Homo sapiens: one gene and its partner. The protein of the gene in region 2 purifies or fractionates together with the protein of the main gene of each other region. This does not show direct contact. Each region holds a gene or a part of one and is shown on either strand. Other genes may lie near its edges.

Region 1 (3,500 bases), on a different chromosome or scaffold from region 2:
TTTATATTATATATTATATTTTTATATAATATATAATATATTATATATAAATATATATAATATATAATATATTATATATTATATATATATTATATATATTATATATTTTATATTTTATATAATATATAATATATATATAATATATATTATATATTATATATTTTACATAATATATAATATATTTTATATAATATATAATATATTTTTATATAATATATAATATATTGTATATTTTTATATATATAAAAATATAAAGGTTTTATATATATATAAAGGTCATATATATATGAGGTTACTGGGAGTCCTTCTAAGGCTCTCCATATATTTTTATATATATAATTATACATTTTTATATATATACTATATTATATTATTATATATTATATAATATATTATATGTTATATATTATATATTTTTATATAATATATAATATATAATATATATTTTATATTATATATAATATATAATATATATTTTATATAATATATAATATATAATATATATTTTATATTATATATAATATATAATATATATTTTATATTATATATGATATATTATGTCACATATAATATATGATATATGTCACATATATGATATATTATATGTGACATATAATATATCATATATAATATATTATATATTATATATCACATATAATATATTATATATGATATATTATATGTTATATATTTTTATATTACAAATATTTTATATATAAATATATTATATATTTTTGTATTATATATATTTTTATATAAATATATTTTTTATCTTATATATATTTACATATATAAATATATATAAATACATATATATATATATATATGCATGAGTGAAATACTGAAAAGAAATTCAAGATCACTCCAATTCAGAAACAGGTGCTTCCTCATGTATGTAAAATATATATAATATAAAAATATATATTTTATATATAATATATATTATGTAAATATATATATGTATTTTTTTGAGACAGAGTCTACTCTGTTGCCCAGGCTAGAGGAGAGTATCATGATCTCAGCTCACTGAAACCTCTGCCTCCCAGGTTCAATCCATTCTCCTGCCTCATCCTCCCGAGTAGCTGGGATTACAGGCACGTGGCACCACACCCAGCTACGTTTTGTACTTTTAGTAGAGATGGGGTTTCACTATGTTGGCCAGACTGGTCTTGGACTCCTGACCTCAAGTGATCAACCCGCCTTGGCCTCCCAAAGTGCTGGGATTACAGGCGTGAGCCACCGCACCTGGCCTCAATTATACATATTTAATAATAATTTGGGGGCCACATTTTCTCAGATATTATGAAAAGTTTTTGAAGATTGAAAAATACATTCATTTATTTGGCAAATATTTTGTGTATCTGCTATGTACTAAGCACTCTCCACAGCACTTGATATTTTACAGCAACAAAATACTGCATAAACTTCATTATGTGTATAAGCCTTATTTAATCCATATATATATGTATATATATATATATATATATATATATATATATATATACAGTGATTATGCTTTCACTATGTAAATGCCATAATGTACAAGAATATAACTCACAGCCCCTGCTTTCAGGTGGCTTACAATATTCCTTAAACAAAATGCTAAACTTCAGAGGAAACAGAAAATTCTAAAAATAGGTTATTTATAGTGGTATGCATCTTTTCCCCTACATCCCGTGTCAAAATTATTTTGTTTTTTGCTGTTTGTTGACTACCTGAACACACCACAATATTCATTATTTAGAATTGACATTGCATTCTTTATATCCATCTGTACTTTTCTAGAACCAGCCCGCCTCCTCTTTCAATGTACTGTTTACTAATTATCAAAATCTTAGTGTTCTATTTTTCTGAATGTTGGATTAAAATATTGCCCACCCTTTAAAACTCAGAGAATGTAAATAACTGTCAACTTAGTTTCTCTTCCCTATTCATCAAAATTCATCATGTGGAAAGCTGCTTTATCTCCCCTGTGGACCAAGAGGGAAGAAAGAAAAGAAAAACAAATAAGCGGTCTCATTGCTGGGTAAACTCAAGTCAAATAAAGGAGCTTTATTTCTCCAGCAACTTCATTACTCAAGACAAACCAGGAGCTTCCTTTTTGAACATGGCACTATTCCAGTTTTTGTGAATGTATATACATATAAAAAATCCATGTAACACAATATTTTATCTCCTGTAGTTTATAACCAAAAAGAAACTACAAAATTCATCATATGCAAAATTAACCTGATAATCAAGTCCACAGGTATATTTGGGGGTTTCCATGATCTCTCTTTAATTGGGGTAATAGAACCTCCAATTAATTCAAGTCAGTTAGACACAACGGTATGTGAAAATATTTCTGATTATGGATTATAAAACATAGATACATGAACATGAAATGAATCATCTATGGTTTGGGCAAATGAGGACACATTGGGCAGGAAACATCCTATAAAGACTAAGAATTAGTTTTGGATTACTTCCAAGAATTGAAAAGGAGAAAGAGATACTGAAAGAAATGGTGCCAAGAATATGGTGGGATATAGTTGGAGGAATGAAAATATATTTTATATTGTTTCTGTTACCAAAGAAATTTTGTTTCCATTTTATATGTGAACATTTCCTATAAAGAGCTATAATTCGAAGACTTCTTTCGAGATAGCAAGGTGTAATGAAGACACTGAACAAACTTCCAATATAAATTATTTTTCTCTTTGATTAGGTTCACTACCTTATGGTTCTGTCTGCCAACTGGGCCTATGTGAAAGACGCCTGCCGGATGCAGAAGTATGAAGACATCAAGTCGAAGGAAGAGCAAGAGCTTCATGACATCCACTCTACTCGCTCCAAAGAGCGGCTCAATGCATACACATAAATGCATCTTCCTGTTCTTTCTACCATTTGAATGCATTGGTGTTTAACTAAGGGCCATCCAACCATCCAACCTTTAAAAAACAAAACGAAAGTGCTTCTCATCAATGATATGTAAGGTGACTTATGAATCACCTGAGTACAATTCTTTGTTGTTTAGCACTTAAATTTCCCAATTTATTAAATTGATGTAAATCAGATCTTTTCTACAAGCTCCTATCCAGCCTTTTTTTTGAAATTTCTCAAACTCATTTACTAGTTCTGTAAAATCAAAGATACTAACATTGTCAAATGCAAAGATTTGTTTGATTTTTAACCACTTCCCATGTGTTATACATAACACCTTTTGCATTATTTCTTATGTTTTGAAAAGAAAATAGCTTTTTATACTTTTTAGTTTTGATTTCGGTAACTAGTTTAACTACAGGTAACCTTCAAAGGGACCATTGTACATTATGAACAATAGATAGAGATTACATCTTGATGACTCTTGAAATATGGAAATTTTGTCTGAAGATCAGTGGCCATATTACTGTAGGCCCTGGTTCATGTTTTCATCAATCTAAGGTGCAATTTCTAAATTTGTAAGAGTAGGTTTAAAAAAAAAAGTGCTTCTTATCTTTGTTAACATTGTACTTTTCCTT
Region 2 (3,500 bases):
GACAGTGAGACTCCGTCTCCAAAAAAAAAAAGAGAAAAAGAAAAAGAAGTACAGTCAGCCCTCTATATCCATGGGTTCTGCATCTGTGGATTTGCACAACTGCAGATCTAAAATATTCAGAAAAATAATTCCAGGTTCTAAAAAACAAAACTTGAATATGCCACGCTTGAGTACTGCATTGAATTCATGCAAATTAAATGATAGGTAGGCATTGTATTAGGTATTGTAAGTAATCTAGAGATTATTTAAAGTACAAGGGAGAATGTGCATAGGTTATATGCAAATGTGACCCCATTTTTATAAGTGACTTTAAGCATCAGCAGATTTTGGTATACAGGGGAGATCCTAGAATCAATCTCCTATGGACAACAAGGGATGACTGTGTACTAATGAGTAGACTTCAGTTTGATTTTTTTGTTTGTTTGTTTTTTGTTTTTTTTTGAGATGGAGTCTCGCTCTGTTGCCCAGGCTGGAGTCAGTGGCGTGATCTTGGCTCACTGCAACCTCCGCCTCCAAGCGATTCTCCTACCTCAGCCTCCTGCATAGCTGGGACTACAGGTGCGTGCTGCCACACCTGGCTAATTTTGTATTTTTAGTAGAGACGGGGTTTCACCGTGTTGGTCAGGCTGGTCTTGAACTTCTGACCTCGTGATCCACCCGCCTTGGCCTCCCAGAGTGCTGGGATTACAGGTGTGAGCCACTGCACCCAGCCAGAATTCAGATTTTTAGTTGAGTCAAGTAAATGAGATTATTAATAAATGAGTCCCAGAGAATATGGGATTTCTTCTTAAAAAGCCAGAACATAAATTTTCTGCACCTAGATCAGTATATTTTAAGGAAATTTGCCTTACTTGTTGTACTTATGAATTTCTAAACCTTTCAGATCCTCTAACGTAGCTTTCATTAGATATCCCAAAACATATTTGCCAGCTGTTGAATGTAATACCACCTCACAGTCTGGGTAAGGACAGTTTATGACAAGTGGACAGGCAAGGAGGAGACTGGTGTTAAGCATTTTAGTGATGATGCCCATACACAGGTAACTTTTCAAAGTTTATTCTACTCTATACCAACAGAAATCAGAGTTGCTATTTCTCTAGAAGAAAACATACACACACCTGTGCCAAGGGAATAACAGAATGGATTTATGCTTTAACCTTCTTTTTTTCTCTCCCACCCATCCCTTCCATATGTTTGTTTTTCCAGAATTATCTTTTGGGGAAAAAAGAAACAGCTGAGATGGCAGATAGAAACAAAGAAGTCCTCTTGGAGGTATGACAACCCCCATTTTCCTGCACATTTAAAAATTAAAATATTAGGCCAGGCATGGTGGCTCACGCCTGCAATCCCAACACTTCGGGAGGCTGAGGTGAGTGAATCACAAGATCAGGAGTTCAAGACCAGCCTGCCCAAGATGGTGAAACCCTGTCTGTTAAAAAATAAAAAAATTAGCCAGGCGTGGTGGTGGGCGCCTGTAATCCCAGCTACTCGGGAGGCTGAGGCAGGGAATTGCTTGAACCCGGGATGCGGAGGTTGCAGCGAGCCGAGATTGCACCACTGCATTCCAGCCTAGCAACAGGGTGAGACTCTGTCTCAATAAAATAAATAAATAAATAAATAAATAAAATAAAATATTAAATACCTTTTTGAAGTCAAGTATGTCAGTGTTCTATATTTGTAGTTACAATTTTAATTAAAGAAGCCTGTGTATTCTTTGATAGTATGAGGGAGAGAGTTCAACTGTGTGAACGTGTTAGGCCACTGAAGACCCTTTATTATTTTGCCAAGCCATATTCTAGTGATCTAAGAATAATGAGCTTTTAGGGGCTGCCAAGTGGGAGAGGTGGCTGGTCAATGAAGGATGTGGTTTTGCTGTTTTTATCTGCTTACTCAGAGAGAAATTTGAATATAATTAGCTGTTCACAAATTATTTCCAGCCTTATCCTTAAATAATTAAATAATTTTTAAAATCATGATCATTTTTTGGAAAAATATAATTGAATTTTTGGCTGATTTTATAGAACTAAAATCAAATAACTTAGTATACTTGAAAACCTGAATAAACCCTTACTTACCAGCAAGGCAATTAGGAAGCGAAGATCAACATTCAGTTTTCATAGTGATACTAACTACGGTTAAGTAAAAATCTGCCTTGTAATTCCTAATTTTTCTGTACTTTGAGGAGAAAAATTAATTTAGGCCCAAATGTCCTATATTAGTGTTTTCTGAGGATTTCTCTTTTCTTTCACAAATACATGATTGATTTCTTTAATATTAGATTTTTATCAAAGCATAGTGTTTAGAACTTAGAATTTTGAGTGTTTATAGTCCTTTCAACCTAGTATTATTTTTTAAATAAATGCCCTCTTTGTCTTAGAGTCACATAAATGGATAGTTTTTAAATTCTTAAAGTTTAATCATACACTTAGCACGTTGCATTCTTTTAAAATATATTCCTGTTTAGTTTGACAGCTAATCTAAATGTAGAGAAAAAATAAAGTCTAACGCTTGGTTTGCCCTGACAGTTTTATTAAATTTAGTGTAACTGTGCTGTTTGCAAAGGTATTTAACTACTGTTACATGCAACTCAGTTCATGTGTCAACTTAGTTTTTCTCCGAAACAGTGTTTTAGTTAAAAGTTTGTAGGTAAAAATTCAGTATTACATGTATGACTGGCATTTTTATTTAATAAACATTTTAGGATTGCCATAGTAGTTCCAAATTCATATTGTGTTTAGAATAGAAAGTGTTTTGTCTTGTTTTTGTTTTTGTTTTTGTTTTTGTTTTTGTTTTGAGACAGAGTCTCGCTCTGTTGCCCAGGCTGGAGTGCAGTGGTGTGATCTCAGCTCACTGCAATCTCCGCCTCCCAGGTTCAAGCAATTTTTGTGCCTCAGCTGCCCACATAACTGGGACTACAGGCTCGCGCCACCATGCCTGGCTTTTTTTTTTTTTTTTAAGTAGAGACGTGGTTTCACTATGTTGGCCAGGCTGGTCTTGAACTCCTGACCTCAAGTGATCCACCCGCTTCCCAAAGTGCTGGGATTACAGGCATGAGCCACTACACCTGGCTGGAAAGTTCTAATTGAGGTTAAATTAGCAGCTTGGTTTTAATATAAAACCATTTTGGTTTAATAACTGTCATGCATTTCACAGGAGTAAACACAACTTTGTTCTGAGAATCCAACGATCATAAGTCTTTGCAAATAATCTTGTTATTTTAGGAATGTTTTTGTGGAAGTTCTGTAACTGTACCAGAAATTGAAGGAGTCCTTTGGTTGAAGGATGATGGCAAGAAGTCCTGGAAAAAGCGTTATTTTCTCTTGCGAGCATCTGGTATCTACTATGTTCCCAAAGGAAAAGCAAAGGTGTGTCCCTTCTGTTGGAATTTGAACTTCCTCATTATGCTAATTGCTTTTAATTTGTATTGAGTATGCTGACAAGGTGAACCCAGGCTATGATTTGTTTCAGTTCGTGGAAGACATAGAATATTGCTTTGTTTA

What was found. The genes of interacting proteins can lie anywhere in the genome.
Region 1: the proteins of RAPH1 (region 2) and GPM6A purify together in Homo sapiens (co-immunoprecipitation; one large-scale study listed by IntAct). This does not show direct contact.

The regions. Positions count from the first base shown.
Region 1 is NC_000004.12:175,634,265-175,637,764, reverse strand, and holds part of GPM6A (neuronal membrane glycoprotein M6-a), read left to right. Parts: intron 1-2,707; coding exon 2,708-2,860; 3' UTR 2,861-3,500. UniProt on the Homo sapiens protein: Involved in neuronal differentiation, including differentiation and migration of neuronal stem cells. Plays a role in neuronal plasticity and is involved in neurite and filopodia outgrowth, filopodia motility and probably synapse formation.
Region 2 is NC_000002.12:203,455,302-203,458,801, reverse strand, and holds part of RAPH1 (ras-associated and pleckstrin homology domains-containing protein 1), read left to right. Parts: intron 1-1,206; coding exon 1,207-1,272; intron 1,273-3,221; coding exon 3,222-3,365; intron 3,366-3,500. UniProt on the Homo sapiens protein: Mediator of localized membrane signals. Implicated in the regulation of lamellipodial dynamics. Negatively regulates cell adhesion.